Linked DNA regions of Homo sapiens. The protein of the gene in region 2 interacts with the protein of the main gene of each other region in a pairwise test. Each region holds a gene or a part of one and is shown on either strand. Other genes may lie near its edges.

Region 1 (5,541 bases), on a different chromosome or scaffold from region 2:
AGGGCAGGAAGTTTTTAAACCACTGACTGGTTCATTATCCTGATAAATGTCCATCTTGAACTTAAATTTATTAGTTTTTTTTAATATATATTGCCTGATTACTATTTATGTTTCAAAAATTCCAACTATACATTGCTAGCAGAAACCCACAGGCCTGTTTTCAGTGAATAGCTAGCTGCATGTTGGAGGCTTTTTAAACCTATAAACGTCTTTTTTTCCAGTAGACTAGCAACTTAATTTGATGGTAGTTCCTGCCTCCTTCTTAAATAGCCCAGTTTTAGAATGTAACATTTCCTATCTGTAGTAATAGGAGGTCCCTTAACTATCATGATTACCATAGATTTGATTTGTTGCATAGGTTAGGTAGTACAGTCTGCAAGTATTAGTCCCTTTCTGTTGCATGTGCTAGCACCTTCAGTTCACAAGGGGGTAAGAGGAATCCAGTTGATTTGAAATACCTTTTGAGTAACAGTCTAAGTTGTTCATTCAGAAAGAGTAGAAAAGTCAACTGCATCAAGGTTTTAAAAGCAGCATTTATTGATTGAAAATAAATGTGTAGATAGGCTCTCAGTATGGAATCCATGTTATTTTTTAATGAAGTACATGAAGACTCCTTAGATCTTCCACCATGTATCTTGTGTGTGCTTATAACAACCACCATATTCAAATGGAGGGGAATTTTCAACATTTTACTGAAAAAAAAATGAGAAATTCTTCCTTCAGCAGCTCTGCATAGTTTGACAAACTTTTGGAAAGAGATAAAAACACACTCCAGTGTTTGTACGTTGAACGTTTATTACAACTAATTGGCGATGTGATAAGACAGTGCTCACGTGGCCTGAATGTTGGTCACAATCACAACAAAGCTTAATCCAGCCCAGCATATATAAGTGAAAATATAAACCATGAAGACATGTTTAGATATGTATAAGTACTTAGAAAAGTGACGCTGAACAATTACATAGCTTTAAAAAATATAGAGCCATCTAATGCCATTTTACCTCATTCAACTCTTTTTTGTAAGAAATGTGTCTTTTTAAATTTTTATAAGACTTCTGTTAACTAGGCAGTGCCATGGAAAGAAAGGAAGCTGCTGTAAAGTGTGCAGCACTTCTAAGTGGAGGGAAGCAAAATAAATTTAGCTTTAACAAGTACCCCAGAGGGAACATTCGTGCTTTAAACAATGACTTTACACATAATACTGTGAAGAGAGCAACACGTTTTTTGTAAGATACTGTTATGAAGAATTCCTGGCAAATTACCATTCTCACTTTATTTTGGGGCATCAAAAACAACTAAGTATTTGATTATGACCACAAAAAATTCATCTCAGGAGTCAAATGTGCCTTGGCCTTAAAAATTATGTGCTTACTATTGTGAAACAATCCTGTTTCTCATCCCAGATTCAGAATGCCTAAGAAATAATTTTTAGTGTAAGAAGTATCACTCCAATTTAGTCATTAAAAATAATCTGTAGTCCTTTAAAAAAAAAAAAAAAAGGTATGTAATTTCCAATACAAGTCTTTGGAGTAAATTTGCTTTTTAAAGTTTCAACAAAGTTTCCATTCATTTGATATGTGACATGTCAATTCCCTTTTTTTTTTTTTTTACATATGCTGAAATGCTGCACTAGTCTTTGGTTTCATAAAACCAGGTTTCACATTATAATTTAAGAGTTTCCTTTGTCAAATACAGTAATTAATAAATGTATACTGCCTGATTTTACATGTATATGATGTGCCATTTTCATATGTGCACATAATCAGATTAAGAGAAACTGACCTTTAAACTTTAAAATATCCAGAAAAGGTATCTCTTTCTGCACCATTCTAATTCATATTTAAGTCCCTTATCACTTAATTAACTAAAGTTCCCTTTTAAAAAAAAATTGTGTAGGCATGAATGAAGCGGCTTAGCAAAACAGTAATACTGACAAGACATCATCTTACACCATGAGCTAACATGGACATGAAGGGAGTGACCATCTACAGTGTGTGAAATGCCACAAGAAGTCATCAACAAGGGAGGAGAGTTATGTCAGTCCAATTTCTTCAAGAACACTACGTGGGGTTTCAGCTTCCTGTGGAGGGAAAATGTGAGACTCTGGTAAGCAGATCCAGGGAGTCTTGAGAATGTGAAACATTGACATGGAAGAACATGCTTGTTTTAGAGAATCAAGAAAGCAATTTCGTGTCACAGTAGCATTCTAGTTGACAGCCATTGGTTATTTAGGGTTTTGTGCCCTCAAAATTGGAGACCACAAAAGGACGTTTTCAGCATTCATTAAGTACCTGCTAATTACCTACCAATGTGCTAGATGCCGTTGCTGTCATGCAAAAAGCAGTCAAGCCCAGTGCAAACCTGCTGGCAATTTATGAAATCACTGCTACTCAATTATATATATGAAAGATAAGTTATCTTAGTGGTAAAATTCAAAACCTCTTCCCTCCGAGTTCCCACAGTTCTTCGCCTACTGTTGTGTTCCATGCTTTTTGTCACATGCATTTATAGAAATGTCTTCCTCTTGGAGTTTTTAGTTAACTGTGTCCACAGCGGCAAGTCTTCAGAAACAGCTATCTTCCCAGACCTCCCCAGTGCAACCAATGGCATCACTAGAGGCCACATATGCAAAGAATGCCATGGGCCAAAGGCATTTTTATTCTATGTAGCAACCAGCACTGGTTTTTAAGTGTCAAAGGAGGTCAAAACAAAGTAAGCATATCCAGGAAAAAATTATTTAATAATTTTCCAAAGTGGCTGATTTTGCAAATCACAAAATAAAGGACCAAGGAGGCCAACTTTCAGGTATTACTAGCAACGAATTTTGTAATTAAAAGGCAACACTATATTTTAATGATGGAAAATAATATAAATTTTTGGCATCCAGTAATAAACTTACTTTCGCATCCTAATCATGGTACAGCACAAAGCAAGGAGAAGAGAAATTATATTAAACCATAAATCTTTAGAATATTAATTGCATGTAAAGCACTTCATGGTGTAATCTTAAGTAAATTACTTAAACTCTATGGTCTGTTTCCTTATTTGGAAAACATGGATAATAGTACTTACCTTCATATGTTGAGATTAAGTGAATTAAGGCTCTGCCTAATTTATAGAAAGTGCTTCAAAAATGTTAGGTGATATAGTTACACAATTGAAATCGAAATGATTTAGCATTTATTATTAAACGCAAGTACTATACACCAATTCTACTTATAAAGCTCATATGATGACCTTTTAGTATGTCTGCATAGTAATAAAAATGGGTAAAAATCAGCTTTAGCGAAAAAAGGTATTTTTTTAAAAAGAGTCTAACCTATGAAGTATTCTTGCCCCCTCAAATTGAACCTCAATCTAGTCAGGTTACAGATCTAAATAGAAATGAGGGATATAAGAACAGCTAAACATTGCCATATGAGTATGATGGCCAAATCCATAAGGTAGGACATCCTGCAGCATAAATGACCTCGTTTTAAAAAAAAAAAATGGCAAGGCGGGAAAAAGCAGACGATTTGTTAAAGATTAAAAGAGACTTAAAACGCACATCAATCAGATACAATGTGAGAGTCTTGGTTGGAATCTGATTCTAACAAACCAAATATAAAAAGGCATTTTTCAGACAATTAGGAAAAATTGAGCCAGGCATAAGATAGTAATTATTAATTCCTGTTAATTTTGTGGGGCATGGTACTTTATCTGTTAGGGACACATACTGAAGTATTAAAGACAAACTGACAAGATGTCTAGGGCTTGCTCTAAGATACTGAGGCAAAAATGCGGGGAGTGGTTGGGGAAACAGTATTAAGTTGATGGTTCTTGAAGCTCAGTGATGTGTACACGAGGGTTCTTTATACTATTTCCTATACTCGTGAGTCTTGAAGTTTTCATGATAAAGTTTTTTAAGAAAGTCCAGTGGAAATGATGTAACACCCAAGAGTGATGTAAGCCAATCCCTTTCATTTATATTTAGCCTTAAGCATTAAATACACTGAGAATGACATCTAAATCTCATAAATATTCAAGAAAAATTTAAAATAATTATTTCCATGTAATGTTAAGTAGTTTAAAGGTTCATGTAGCCTTGAATGTATCAATTAAATAATGCCTCCATTGAATTCTACAGTTTACATTCTCAGCTTCTCCATGTAAAAATGCCCCACAGCTACTCCGTGGAGCTGGTCAGACTTTTCCCCATGTGCTCACTGCCTGCAATCTTATATAGCATTTCCTGTAGAGAATCATACTGCTTATCAAATATGCATTATTGAAAATATGTGTCCTTTCTAAAAGGCCTAGTTTCAAAGAATTATTTACACATTTTATTCTTGTGAGACTTGCACAGGTAGAGTTTTAAAATAAATTGTGGTGATAATATAAAATGGAACTTACACATGTTCACACTGAAATTGTAGCTCAAAACTACCCAGAAAAACTATTATCTATCTAAAGTAGTAAAATTTATAGAAACAGAAAGTCGAATGGTGGTTGCCAGGGGCTGGGGGACAGGGAGAAATGGGGAATTGTTGATTAATGGGTATAGAGTTTCAGTTCTGCCAGATGAAAAAGTCCTGCAGATCTGCTGCACAACAATGTGAATAAACTTAACTAACACAACTGAACTGTACACTTAAAACTGCGTAAGATGGTGAATTCTGTGTTATGTGTTTTTAACCACAATTTAAAAAATTTGCCTAGAAAAATGAAAATATAAAACGTTATTTTATGAGGGATGGAAAAGAAAAAGTCATTCACATGAGACGAAGTACATGCAATACTTTTATTTTAGACATGCAAGGAAAGCTATTTCAGAATCTACTAATTTAAAGCAAGCAGCTGTATACAGACAGCAAAAGAAGCAACATTTTGTTACAGCTTAGCACAAGGCATCCAACACAAACAGGCATGAGACAATGCATATTTATGTAGCATTAAAACCAGATGAATAATATATTGTGGGGCAGGAGGAGGAAAGGAGGGGAAAAAAAAATAGAAATGAAAGACCAATGTTTCTCAATGCTTCCAATATATAATGCTAAATTTCCCACCTGATTGATAGCACATCCAGGTGCTTCAAATGTCGTGCATTACAGTGAGAATGTTAAGAATGGAAAATCTTATCTGTGTACCTGCCTAATACTAAGTTTGGTCAAAACACATTTTCATAGATCTTCTTTCAGTGATAAATCGATTTGAACATCTTGTGAAGTTATTGTTTAATAACTTACTTAACTTAGGCTTTATGCTCTCTAGATATAAACAATGAATTCTTTTCCTTTTATAAAAAAATATGCTGCATGTTTTATTAAAAGAATATGCAATAGTTACCAATATTAAAGGTTTTAAAATTCAGAAATATAATGCCACAGTTAACAAAGTATCAAGTATTTAAATGAGGACTTAATATATTAGAATGCCATCACTAGTAAAATATAAGTATTTAGGTATTAAAACTGAATGAATATTAGAATTTTTGAACTATATAAACTCAGCATTAATGCTTTGAAAGAGTTATTATTCAGCAACAGATATTGCAGAACA
Region 2 (7,033 bases):
AATAGTGGTTTTGGTTATAGGAGAGTAGTGTTTAATGGGGAGTTGAGGTTGATTCCTTGAAAACTTTTTAGGCCAGGCGTGGTGGCTCATGCCTATAATCCCAGCGCTTTGGGAGGCTGAGATGGGAGCATCGCTTGAGCCCAGGAGTTTGAGACCAGCCTGGGCAACATGGTGAAACTCTGTCTCTACAAAAGACACAAATATTAGACAGGTATGATGGTGTCTAGTCCCAGCTACTCAGGAGTGAGACCCTGTCTCAAAAAAATTTAAAAAATACCCAACTTTTTAAAGAAGCAAACGCGAATTATATTGGAAAACCTGCCATTTTTTGAGATGGAACTTATTGAGCCATTGTGAGGTTTTTTGTTTTTTTTTTTTTAATAGAGTCTCACTCTGTCACCCAAGCTGGAGTGCCATGGTGGGATCACAATTCACTGCAGCCTTGATCTCCTGGGTTTCAAGCGATCTTCCCACCTCAGCCTCCTGAGTAGCTGGGACTATAGGCAGGCACCACCCTGGCTAGTTTATTCTACTTTTTTTTTGTAGAGACAGGGTTTCACCGTGTTGCCCAGGCTGGTCTTGAACTTCTGGACTCAAGCAATCTGCCTGCCTTGGCCTCTCAAAGTGTTGGGATTAACAGGCATTGCTGAGTGTGGTGGCTCATGCCTGTAATCCCAGCACTTTGGGAGGCCAAGGCGGGTGGATCATGAGGTCACCTGCAGGGTGGTTAGCCAGACCATCCTGGCTAACACAGTGAAACCCTATCTCTACTAAAAAGTAGAAAAAATTGGCCGGGCGTGGTGGCAGGCACCTGTAGTCCCAGCTACTCGGGAGGCTGAGGCAGGAGAATGGCGTGAACCCGGGAGGTGGAGCTTGCAGTGAGCCAAGATTGCGCCACTGCATTCCAGCCTGGGTGACAGAGCCAGACTCCGTCTCAAAACAAAAAAAACAAAAAAAAAACAAAACAGGTGTGAGCCACTTTGCCTGGCCCCATTGTGAGATTTTAAAACCACTTTAGGCCCAAGTCTCTGTCCTAGTGGACTGAATTACTGTTTCTCTTACCCTCTGGCTGGTAAACAAGAAGAAATGAGACATGTATCCATGTTCTTATTTGCACATTAAAGGACTGGCTTTAAAAGGGAAAATTGTGGCAACAACACTTGAACTCTGTATGTTTTTCTTTTCTTCTTCTGTTTCTGCCACTTGAAGCTCTAATATTGCCTCTCAGCCCCAGTGGTCATTTTTCACTCTTTTTACCCCCACCTGCTCTGGTTGATAGAACCAGAGCACTTTTTTTTACCCCCAACTACTCTGGTTGATAGAACAGCTTGGACAGTTACCCTGGCAAAGCACAGGTTGAGTTAGAGGCTTTTGTAACGGTAGGATTGTCTTTCTGGCTGCTTCCCCTGACTTGATATCAGATTTAGATGCTTAATCATGCTACTCATTCTTCATCGTCTTCTTTTTCCTCCTCCTCCTCAGGTAACAGAGGATGAAGTGTTGGATATTTTAGAAAGTGTCCTAATCTCTAATATGTCCACCTCTGTGACACGAGGTTATGCCCTCACTGCCATTATGAAGCTTTCCACTCGATTCACTTGTACTGTAAAGTGAGTATTGAAGAAACATAGGGTGAACAGGTTGTTTTGTAATTAAAAAACAAAAAAAATCCCAAAAAACTTGTTATCATGGAAAATTTCAAGCATAGACAAAAGTAGAGAGAATAATAACACAAATTTCCATTACTTATTTCTCCACAGTCACAGTGATCAATTTGTGGTTAATCTTTATTCATCAGCACTTTGTTCCCTCTCATTCTTTTACTCCCTTGTGGATTATTTTGAAGCAGAAAAGTTTAGGGGGTTTTGTTTGTTTGTTGAGACAGGGTCTCGCTCTCTTACCCAGGATGGGGTGCAGTGGCGCCATCATATTTTACTGCAACCTTGAACTCCTGGGCTTAAGGGATCTTCCTGTCTCAGCCTCCAGAGGAGCTGGGACTATAAGTGCACACCATCGTGCCTGGCTAATTTTTACATTTTTTTGTAGAGAAAGTGTTTCGTTTGTTTGCCCAGGCTGGTCTCAAACTCCTGGGCTCAAGTGATCCTCCTGCCCTGACCTCCCAAAGTGCAGGGATTACAGATGTGACCCACTCCACCTGGCCTAAAAGTTACGTTTTTAGAATGAGATTTCTAATACCTTTTTTTTTTCTTTTTAAGTTGAGAATCTACTTCCCCATATAAAGGTTTTGGTTTATTTGTATTTTATATTTCATTTTATTTTATGACAGAATCTTGCTCTGTTGCCAGGCTGGAGTGCAGTGGCATACAATCTCGGCTCACTGCAATCTCCATCTCCAGGGTTCAAGCAATTCTCCTGCCTCAGCCTCCTGAGTAGCTGGGATTACAGGCGCACACCACCATGCCTGGCTAATTTTTGTATTTTTTGGTGGAGATGGGGTTTCACCATTTTGGCCAGACTGGTCTCGAACTCCTGACCTTGTAATCTGGCCAAGGTTTTGGTTTATTATATTTTGACAAGTCTTAATAGGAATAAAATCATGAATGTTTTGGTGATTAAATCTTTTAATTCTCCTCTTTGCTTTTTTGAATAAAGTAGATTCTCAGGTCACTTTCCCACCCAAGCATATTTAAGGCCAACGTAGTTCTTGTAGTCTTTCTGCTTCACTTTTAAATGTGAAGTCTTATAAAAAATGGTATTGAATTACTTTTAAAATTCTGAACTGGAAGAATTTGGGGTCAACATTTTGAGGCTCTGACCCTTTTATAGATTAAAAATTATTTAAAAATTATCAAAGAAGAGAATGAACAGTACAAATTTCTTTTGTGGCAAAGTAATAGTTGGTACTTTTGTCTAGCAAAGTTTAGGGAGTGGCATATATATATGTGTTTTTTCCACACCATCATTGTTGCTGAATGGGGATGGCATATTTAACAGACAAAAATCTAGTGTTACAATGAGAATAGTATAATGCGAATGTCAGATAAATGGATGAAAGTAAAGTGTTTTGTTTTTGAAAAACTATATAAATTAAGAAAAAATGAGTATTTCAGTATTTTAACCAGAAAATTCTGGCTTATTAAACATTATCTCTGCTTATTTGTGAATTTTCTTTTGGGTATTTTATTTCGTTTGTCATTTTATCTATAGCCGAATTAAGAAAGTGGTTTCCATCTACGGAAGCAGCATTGATGTGGAACTCCAGCAGAGGGCAGTAGAATATAATGCACTTTTCAAGAAATATGACCACATGAGGTGAGCGAAAGAAACTAAGCAATGCGTGTATCTCTTAGCATCCTGACTAAATTGTCATGGTAATCCATAAAGAAGATTCATTCCTTGTGCTTTATTAATTGTTCCTCGTATCCCTATTTAGTTCTAATTGCTTGTCTGCTTCTGTTTTGTCCATCTTCTATTCTGCCTAGTCTCTAAAGAAATAAATTAACTCTCTTTCATTCCACCTCCAACACTTACACTTTTTTTGATATGGAAAGTTTGCTTTATTTTCTATTTTATTTAGTTAAGAAGTGGGAGGCCGGGCGTGGTGGCTCACGCCTGTAATCCCAGCACTTTGGGAGGCCGAGGCGGGCAGATCACGAGGTCAAGAGATCGAGACCATCCTGGCCAACATGGTGAAACCCCGTCTCTACTAAAAATACAAAAAAATTAGTTGGGCATGGTGGCGCATGCCTGTATTCCCAGCTACTCGAGAGGCTGAAGCAGGAGAATCATTTGAACCTGGGAGGCGGATGTTTCAGTGAGCCAAGATCATGCCACTGCACTCCAGCCTGGCGACAGAGCAAGACTCTGTCTCAAAAAAAAAAGAAGTGGGAGTTGTATTTTTTCAAGACAAATAATCTCATTCAAATTCTTTTACTGTTAACATTCTAGTGTTTGGGTCATCTTTTATTCTTCTATTATACAGTATCTTCTTGACTGTTAATACCTATGGATTTACCTTTCTTTCATCTCAGTCTCTCTACCACTGAAATATATGCTTTGGGATTTAGCTGGGCAGTCTGTTTATTCAAGATTTTTTTGTCTGCCCTTAATCCAGCCAGGAATTTAGGTCATGTATTCTTGTAATCTACCTTCTATTTTAGTGTGTGTGTTGGATGGGGAGGGGAGATAGATCTCCATGCTTGGGCTCAACATAGTTAATGGTGATTATTTTGGGTAGGGAATCTAGGTTAACTGCCTAGAATTTAACCACTTCAGATTCTTCTAGGTCTGCCCTACTTGAGAGAATGCCTGTCATGGAAAAAGTGACCACAAATGGCCCTACTGAGATTGTGCAGACAAATGGAGAGACAGAACCAGCTCCACTAGAGACCAAACCGCCACCCTCTGGGCCACAGCCCACCAGCCAGGTAGCCAGCCTTTCACTTGCTCATCTGGGGCTTCTTACGATTTTATAGTCCCTTACAGCTTGTCTCTTAGCTGAGTCCCTTTAATGTTCCTGGGTTGGTTGATGATTTCCTTCCTTATTTTTACATATTGAAAGAGCTTTGCATTAGATGTATACTAGACAAATCAAATAATAATGAATTGAGGTGTTGTTACCTTGTTTAGGCCAATGATTTATTGGATTTGTTGGGAGGAAATGACATAACACCTGTTATTCCAACTGCGCCTACAAGCAAACCATCTTCTGCTGGTGGAGAACTTCTTGATTTGCTGGGAGACATCAACCTTACAGGTGAGGCAGTCTGGAGCTATTTAATACCTGGGAAAAGATAGAGGCCTCAGGGAAAAACTAAACTGAACCCAGACTTTCCAGCACGTGAATCATTTGAAGATGGGAGAGGCTAAATCAGAAGCAAGAGTCAAATCTTCACAATATCCGGGTTATATGTTGTATACTAATAATGCTCTAAAGATAATTTATACGGATTTCTTAAAGGCAAACTCCTAATTTTGGGTGAATAAATTATTCATAGTGTTTTAAGATAGAAACTACTTTTCCTGGCTGGGCGCAGTGGCTCATGCCTGTAATCCCAGCACTTTGGGAGGCAGAGGCAGGTGGATCACCTGAGGTCAGGAGTTCTAGACCAGCCTGGCCAACATGGTGAAACGCCATCTCTACTAAAAATACAACAATTAGCCGGGTGAAGTGGTGCATGCCTATAATCCCAGCTACTCCGGAGGCTGAGGCAGGAGAATCGCTTGAACCTGAGAGACGGAGGTTGCAGTGAGCCGAGATCGCGCCAGTGTGTACTGCAGCCTGGGTGACAGAGCAAGACTCTGTCTCCAAAAAAAAAAAAAAAAAAACACACTTTCTCTTTCAAGCTCAAAAAATATATCCCGTATCACCTTTGCTTTTAGTGTCCCAAGACATGACTTCTTCTTGGTTCCTTCCCACTAATGGTTAGTTTTCAGTAGCTGTGGCCATTTGTGGAGAGATGTTAACCTGCTACTTACCTCTTCCCTTTCACACTTTCTGTAATTAAAGCAACTGAAGGGCAATCACTCATAATATTCAAACATAACTTTTCATTTGGGAATATTTTTTCTTCTGTTCATATATACCAGTCATTTGTAATTGACATGTTCAGCAATATGATAAACCCGAGTCCAATACAACTTTTATTTTTATTTTGAGATGGAGTCTTGCTCTGTTGCACAGGCTGGAGTGCAGTGGCACGATCTCGACTCACTGCAACCTCCGCCTCCCGGGTTCAAGCGATTCTTCTGCCTCAGCCTCCTGAGTAGCTGGGATCACAGGCACGCACCACCATGCCCTGGCTAATTTTCGTATTTTTAGTAGAGATGGGGTTTCTCCATGTTCGTCAGGCTGGTCCTGAACTCCTGACCTCATGATCCCCCTGCCTCGGCCTCCCAAAGTGCTGGGATTACAGGCGTGAGCCACTTCGCCTGGCCTTTTTTTTTTTTTTTTTGAGACAGAGTCTCACTCTGTCACCCAGGCTGGAGTGCAGTAGCATGATCTCGGCTCACTGCAGCCTCTGCAACCTGGGTTCAAGCAGGTCTCCTGCCTCAGCCTCCTGAATAGCTGGGATTACAGGCGCCTGCTACTGCGCCTGGCTAATTTTTGTAGTTTTAGGAGAGACAGGGTTTCACCATGTAGGCCAGGTTGGTCCCGACCTCGTGATCCACCCACCTCAGCCTCCCAAAGTGCTGGGATTACAGGTGTGAGCCACCACGCCTGGCCTACAACTTCTATCCTAAATTTCAGTGTAAAGTATAGCTGAAAGGTTAAAGTGTCTTTTTTTTTTTTTTTTTGAGACAGAGTCTCACTCTGTCAGCCAGGCTGGAGTGCAGTGGGATTATCTCGGCTCACTTCAACCTCTGCCTCCTGCGTTCAAGTGAGCCTCCTGCCTCAGCCTCCTGAGTAGCTGGGATTATAGGCGAATGCCACCATGCCCGGCTAATTTTTTGTATTTTTAGTAGAGACGGGGTTTTGCTGTCTTCTTTAAGAGGATAATGAAGAGTTAAAGCACACATGACCTTGAGTAAAAAATAGACATAGGATAACAAGTTGGATGGTTAGCTAAGCTCATTCCCACAGGCTGATTTTTTTTTTTCCTAATACAGTGGAGTCACAGAGTATAGGATTTATGTCTGTGTCTTAACAAAATTTCAAAATGTTACTTGTCATGTACTTATGAATCATTTACAAATGGTCAATTTCAAATCCTCAAATGTCAAAGCTGTACTGGATAACCGGCAAAGAAAAAACAACCCCACAGTTAAACCATAGCATATACTTCACCTAATATGTTAGTATTTCCATGTTAATATATATAGCCTTCATAATTATAATTTTAGGTGACTAATACTTTATCAACAAATTTGCTCTGTTTACTCAGTTCGTTAGTATTGGGTAGTTTGGCTTTTTTTTTTGGTTTTTTTGAAACGGAATCTTGCTTTGTTGCCCGGGCTGGAGTGCAACAGCACGATCTCGGCTCACTGCAACCTCTGCCTCCCGGGTTCAAGTGATTCTCCTGCCTCAGCCTCCCGAGTAGCTGGGATTTATAGGCACGTGCCACCATGCCCA
Region 3 (7,018 bases), on a different chromosome or scaffold from region 2:
CTTCTCCCCTAGCCCTCAAAAGTCCTGAAGTAGCCAGGAGAAAAGGTGGCTTCAGTTTGACACCAAAGGAGAATCACTAAGGTCCCAGAAAGAAGGGATTCTTGGGAGCTGAGGGTAAAGTCTGTGAGTGGTTGAAGGAGTGTTCAGATGGGGATGATTCCCCTGAGAGTCTCATTTGACTCACGTGGCTGACTTCCAGAGACCTTCTCCAGCTCTAGAATTCTAGTAGTGAAGCCATTTTTGTTGATTTCACAGTCTGGACTCTCCTGAATCTACTGGCTCTTTCATTTACTCCTACCCACCTCTCCCATCAGAAAACAACTTCTGTAAACAGGAAAAAGTGGCATTCTGGCCTCCTATCACAACGCAGCCACTGGGGGCTGTTAGGTGTCCCCCAGCAGCTTGGGAGTAAAATCATGAGTAAAGCACTGGCAGGGGGTGGGTGAGGTGGAAGTGAGGGGGCAGAGAAGATGAAAGGAATACAGAATCCTGGCCAGTCTCCCAGGGTGGCTGAAACCCAGGAGATCTGTAGCTTTCACGGATGACCCATTCTGACTAAAGATGACCAGCTCCCAGTCTGAAAAACCCACAGAAGTCAAGCCATTCCCAAAGGCCCTAGGGAATGCCAGTACACCCCCAAAGAAGGCCTTGATTTAATCTTGGTCTTCAGAAATATCCCTCTCCCCTGAGGCTAACAGAAATTCCCAGGGAATTAAAATGACCCTGCCCATACAAGCGTCTTGCCAATTTCAGGGTGCTGTCCTGGGGCTGAAGTGGAGCTTCTCCTCTGGAGGATGCAGGCCTTCAGGACCACCTCTCTGGCAGGGCTGGCCCATGTTTGGCAGGGTACCATGAATGAGTGTGTCTGTCCCAGGCCCCACCTGTTGCAGTGACCAGATCTCATGATGGATGGGATATGAATTAGTATGGCAGAGTAATAAATCAAGGAGTGTCAGGAAAGTTGTGAGGAACATGTATGTACATATAGAGCCATCCCATAATAACTCTTTCATACCCATACATATGCATATACGCACATACACACACACACCATATACTCCCAGTCACCACGGCAACCATTTCTTAAAGCTGTACTTACGGGGTTTTGGTTGTTTTTTATTATTATTTTTTTCATGCTAGATCTTTTCACCCTTATTTCTTCGGAGTACATCTCTGGCCTTTGACTCTCTGCTGAGAAGTACCATACCTCCTTGGGAAACCCTGTCACATCTAACATTTACCAGGTCCCTCTAAAAGGCTCATATCTATCCTCATGCTGACACTGAATTCAGCCAACACACCATTTGGTGACTTGCTAAAAGCATTGGCAATACAAAATAACCATTCTGATTGCCACTGTGAGTCAGAAAAACTGGAGACAAATATAGTGTAATGTATTGTACAGCTTTCACAGACAGTCCTCAATTTTAAAATAAAACCAAGTCACAAAGTTAATGTGGAAAAGGAGCCAGCTTTGGTCCTTAAAAATGGAGAAACCTATTCTTGATTAAAGTGACAGCTCTATTTAGTAGGCATGGATTTAAGATTCTTAACCTTGTAAAAGTAATTCGCATTTCCTTCCTCTTCCATATGTTATACATTATGCTTCAAATTAACCCTATTTTCCATTTTAGATTTCATTATTCAAAAATGCCAATAATATCAGTGGGTGAAGAAACACTTAAAACATTTTTATCCAAATATTGACCTTGCTTTGGACAACATCCATGTAATAAGTAGTGAGATTTTTTCCTTTTAATGTCACCAATATGTTTATGATTAAAGGTCAGTCTGTGGCAACAGTTTGCATCTCTGCGCTATAATTACTTGTTCTGCTAAAAAATAAAAAAATAAAATAAAATAAAATCCTGACTTATGACCTGACCAGACAATTCTTTGCATCTCCTTTTATCAGATTTCTGCTGGATGAGGAATGACCTAGGCAAGAGTATTTAATTTATAGTCAAAATCCACATGTGTGCCCTGCCTCCTGCAAAGCATTGGGACACCATAGGGTAGGGAGAGAAGTCCTTTGCTATGGAACAACTGCTCCAAAAGTAACCTAAAGTGCAGAACTAGCGATGGGGCGGGGTGCATTTATTTTGACCTAAACTGGGATTCTGGTCTTTGAAGCCCGCGAGTGGGCTCATTTCCTAGAGGGAGAAAAGGGGAAGCGACAAGAAAGACTCCACCCAGGCGATCCCAGGCAGGCGCCTTGTGTATAAATCCAGGGAGAGAGGGGCACCAGGTGGCCAATGGATGAGAAGTCACCCGGCTGGGTACGCAGGTGGCCAGGGGATGGCAGATGGGCCAAAGCGGGGCGGAGGCGGCCCTGGGCGGATCAGGGGGTGGGTGGCTGAGGGATATGTGTGCGGAGGAGGTGGGCTGTCCTCCCACCCACCGGTCTCCCGACCAGCGAGCAAGCTTTGGACAAGGCCAAAGAGCATTGGGCTGCTGGAAGCTGGGGCATCGGCGCAGCCTTCGGTAAGGGGCTCTGGTCGACCCCACTCCCTGGGCTTGCATCTGTCCACTGATCAGTGGGCAGGTCCTGCCTCTGCTTCCTCCCAGCCACCCCCGCCGCGCCATCAATTCCTCAGGGAACCGGCTCCTCTCTCAGTGCCCGGGCCAAGGCGCCCGGGGTAGCGGGCGGGCGAGGGTCTGCAGGGGCCCGGCCACTTACCCGAGTGCAGGCCGCCCGCTTCGGGGCCGCTGTCCGGGGCGGCGGCGCTGGGCGGCGCGTCCGAGTCGGTGTAGGTGAGCCAGGTGGATTCTGTCTCCCGGGTCCAGCTCTCGTAGTAGCGGGGCTCGATGGCATCCGCCCGGCTCCCGCCGCAGCCCATCCTCCTGCGCCGCGGGAGCGCCCAGCGGCTGCTCGGCTGTCGGCTCTGGCGGCGGCTCAGCCCCGGAGGCGCAGCCCCGGCCCGCAAGGAGGCGGCGGCGGCGACATCGCGTCCCCGCTCCCGCCCGCGCTGCAGCCGCGCGGAGCTCCTGCGGTGCCCGCCGCCCCTAGTCCGGGCCCTCTCCCAGCCCGTCCCTCCTCTCCGCCTCCAAGGCCCTCCCTCCCCTCCGGTCCCCACCGCCCAGTCCTCCCTCCCAGCGCCCTGGCCGCCCCAAGGCCCCCGCTCGCCCGCCCCCTCCCTCAGGGCTCCGTGACGGCCCGGGAGCAGGAGCAGCGGCCCCGCAGCCGGAGGAGGGCTGGGGCTCCCGAGGCGCTCGGACCCGTCTGGCCGGCATTACCGTTCCCAGTCTCTGGCCCATCTATCCATCCATCCATCCATCCATCCATCCATCCGCTCACCCGCTCATTCATTCATCCATCCATCCATCCTTCCTTCCTTCTTTCCATCCATCCTGGAAAGAACTGAAACTCTTATCACGGGACCCCAGGCTTTCTGGCCACCTGTTACAAAAGCAATGGAACTGGGAGCAACCCCGCAAAACTGGTCAGGGAGTATTGCCACTAAGACTTAAGGAACAGTCAGAGCCTATGCCTGTCGTATCTGATTTGGGGAGGCAGGAGTAGGGCTATGATTTTTAAGAGAGTTAGGCTAGGCAGTGTCACTTACACCCCTTCCAGCTGTGGTACTTCATGATCCTCTGAACTTTAAACTCGAGAAAGCAATAGATCACCTGGAACCACGCAGCATCCTGAACCCCCTCTCTGGGCAAGGCTTGGAGGCATGGCCGGTCCCTTCAAGCCCAGGGTGGCCTTGACATTCCCGGGATCCAGTTGTCAGCCTTTCTTTTCTCGGTGCACCCTCAGGTCCATGCGGGTTCAGACCTAGAGCTCAGACTTGCGTAGGCCAATGAATTTACCTGTTCCAAGAATCCAGAACAGGTGGTGAAAGATGAAAATCTTCTTAGCCTTCAAGAGGGGGGTAGGAAAGGGAAGGGTTTGGAAGAATAACTCTTCAATGACCAAGCTCTGCTAGAATATGGTATTAAGTATCATATTCATTCATTCATTCATTCAATGTATATTTACTAAATTCCTATTGTGGCAAAAGACTGTTCTAGTAGACATAATACATATATAATATATTTTGTATATTATCCATTGTATGTAGACTATAGGGTGTGATGTTTAATATAGCATGTAAAGCATAGAGAATATAGTACTCATTATATCCTATATAATTTATAGAATGTACGAGAGTACATTGTCTATAACATTTAGCACGTAGCATCCAATAGGTAGGGCAAGTTCAGAGCATTGCCTGGCACAGAGTAGGCCCTCAGTAAATGTCCAGTGAATTAATAATGAAGTATCTTTTTATAGTAATTTGATTCACTTAAATTATTGTAATTTGGGCTAAAGATGATCCAGTTGAGGGTAGAGCTGTCAGACATTCCTCTGGCAGGCACTCACCAGAATCCATAATGTGGAAGGGAGCAAAGATTCATGGAACTGTGGCCAGGGTCTCCTCCTCCTCATGCTGAGCGCAGCACCCGTTCGCACCCCAGGACTCAGGCTGGCCTCCTCTGCAGGCTTTGCTTCTCCTTTTGAGATGGCCTTGACAGGACTCTTCAACCTTGTTTTAGGTGTAAGGTGGAGGGAGTGCAGTTATCCGGGAAGTGGTGGCTTCCCTAGTCCTTTGGAATTCAGATGCCCTGTGCCTCTTTTCCTTCCCCCCTGAATATTTTGATTTCAGAAGAACCAGCTTTCAGGGAGAGAGAATACTTAACATCTCTAGCAGAGCCTGTGCTTTCCTCAGTTCTACGGCACAGTGCTCCTTTCATAACCAGCCACTTCGTGATGTCACCACCCAAAGAGCAGACAGACCAGAAAGAGTGTCTGAGTTAGACCGTCCTGGGGGAGTTCTAGAAAACGAAAGAAACTGAAAGAGCTAGAGCTTGGTGAGCACAGGAAACAGAGTAAACGTGAGGTGAAGTGGAGGGGTATCCTGGGGCCAAATAGAAACCCACATGCCCATATGTCTAAATTGTAAAAGCTATAAACCAAGTGAGCAAGTTTAATTGAAACATGGGCTGTCCTCATACCTTGACAAGTTATCTTCATAAAAACTTAAAAGGCCAGGTTCTAATGTAGAGTTCTCTCAGTCTTTGGAGTTCTGCACTGAACATGGCAGTGGGATTGTGGGTGGAATTGACCCACCCACTCCTCTTTCTATCCTCAGTTCAGTCCTGCTACACACGGGTCCTTGTGGGCCCATGGGTCTAAGGTCTGTCCATACTCCCCTCCCACAAATAGCTGCCCTTGGCCATCCCTCTGGCTGAGGAGCATGTGCCTGGGGGATGTGGTCTGCCCTCATGGGGTTTGCTTCCAGTACAAGCCCTGGAAGTAGGCTCAGTGGGTTTGGAGAAGAGAGTTGCAAGGTCTCAACTACCCAACAGGGAGGTTAGAAGGGGCTGAGACTCAGGCTCCAGGTACGTGCATTCTGTGATCCCTGGATTCCTTGGCCATAGAGAGGACCAGGGCTGGAGAACCAGAGTGGGACCTCTGGGGCAGGAGCCCAGAGCAGGGACCCCTCTTGCCAGGCCCTGTCTACTTACTTGAATGGAATTATGAACATTTCCAGAATACAGGAGATGGTTATCAAGTACTGCCTGGCTAAGGTTGAGTGTGGTCACTCATTTCACACACATTTCTGATCATCTATTGTGTATAGTTTAAGCTTCTTAAAGACAAAGATATGGTGACATGCTTGGAATCTTCAAAAGGGATTAACTTAATGCCTTCATAGAGTCAGTGCTCATCAAATGTTTGCCTAATGAATGAATAGCAAAAGACAAGGTGGGGATACAGTTAACAGTGCAATTTCAAGAGCCTGACTCTCTGAGTTTAAAGTTTGGCTCTGCTACTTAAGTGGATGGTCTTGGGCAAGCTACTTAACCTCTTTATGCCTCAACTGCATCGTCTGTAAATTGGAATAATAAATTGTGTCAGTATGTGTAAAGGGCCTCAAAGAGTGCCTGGCACATAGAAACACTCCATGAATGTTGCTATCACAACACTTTTGGGGCAACAAGCAACAATGTCATCTCTCTTCCTTAAGAGGGAAATCCCTGAAATTATTATGTCTTTTCACATGAGATAATGTTTGTGAATTTGCTTAGCACACTGCAGAAGTTTGGTAAATAGGTAGGTTTTTTTCTTTTCTTTCCTTTCTTTTTCCTTCCGTTATGATGTTACTGCTAACAACCTTCCTGCAAATAAATTTTTTTACCCCCATTTCTAAGTAATCATCATCGACAGAGCAGTTAGATTTTTTCATGGAATCTCTTTCTTGGCATTACGTAACACCATTGATTCAGAGAAATTCAGAAGCCAGAAAAAGTTAAAGAGCAGCCAATCCAGTCCTTTTATTTTACCAACTAGGAAATCGTAGCTCAGAAAGCTGTAAAATTGCCCAAGGTCACACAGGAAATGTTATCTCTGGCAGAGCTGAAGTTTCAGCCAGAGCTGGGGGCCTGTGGCTGCTGGCTCCGTGCTCTTTTAATTACAGCTCTTTAGTTGGGATTGAATTTTCTCCTAAACCTTCAGGAATAAATGTCATAAATTAAATGTAAATATGTAAAATGTAATACATTATCTTAAACCCTCTGTTCAGAATCTGTAGCTTGACTGGCATGAATTGGTTATCTTTTTCCATCAAGTTTGAAAGCAACAAAAAAAGAATTCTCCTAAGGAGAAATGCTGCAACAGGGCATTGGAAAGCCTGAGCCAAAGCCATCCAGAGCAATGAAATAAATTACACCTGTAAAAACTACTGCAGAGTGGTATTTGCTATATGATGGGATTCTCAAAATAAATTCTCTCTGGCTTTAAGAACCCCTGTGACTGGTACCACCTCTGGCTCATTTCTATGGAAACTGAAGCAAAGGCCTGTAGTGCTTCTCCCTCCAAGGTCTCATTTCTGTGGCTTGGCATCACTGGACTCTACCCGACTATTGTGAGCTGTAGAAAACAGACCTTCAGTAAGGCGGACAATCAGGACAGAACAGAAGGGTTAGCAGGAACCTAAACCTGCCTTTAGAATCAGCCATCTGAAAAGGA

The links. Proteins that work in one complex are often made in the same cells at the same time.
Region 1: the proteins of AP1G1 (region 2) and AP1S2 interact in binary tests that used the Homo sapiens proteins (3 or more experiments, as listed by UniProt).
Region 3: the proteins of AP1G1 (region 2) and BAALC interact in a two-hybrid assay, tested with the Homo sapiens proteins (one study listed by BioGRID).

Annotation. Positions count from the first base shown.
Region 1 is NC_000023.11:15,825,293-15,830,833, forward strand, and holds the end of AP1S2 (AP-1 complex subunit sigma-2), read right to left. Parts: exon of another isoform or gene 4,767-5,541; intron 2,909-4,766; coding exon 2,900-2,908; intron 2,081-2,899; coding exon 2,033-2,080; 3' UTR 514-2,032; downstream 1-513. UniProt on the Homo sapiens protein: Subunit of clathrin-associated adaptor protein complex 1 that plays a role in protein sorting in the late-Golgi/trans-Golgi network (TGN) and/or endosomes.
Region 2 is NC_000016.10:71,742,828-71,749,860, reverse strand, and holds part of AP1G1 (AP-1 complex subunit gamma-1), read left to right. Parts: intron 1-1,482; coding exon 1,483-1,610; intron 1,611-3,168; coding exon 3,169-3,273; intron 3,274-4,246; coding exon 4,247-4,388; intron 4,389-4,590; coding exon 4,591-4,717; intron 4,718-7,033. UniProt on the Homo sapiens protein: Subunit of clathrin-associated adaptor protein complex 1 that plays a role in protein sorting in the late-Golgi/trans-Golgi network (TGN) and/or endosomes.
Region 3 is NC_000008.11:103,136,720-103,143,737, reverse strand, and holds the start of BAALC (brain and acute leukemia cytoplasmic protein), read right to left. Parts: upstream 3,014-7,018; 5' UTR 2,841-3,013; coding exon 2,681-2,840; intron 2,485-2,680; exon of another isoform or gene 2,396-2,484; intron 1-2,395. UniProt on the Homo sapiens protein: May play a synaptic role at the postsynaptic lipid rafts possibly through interaction with CAMK2A.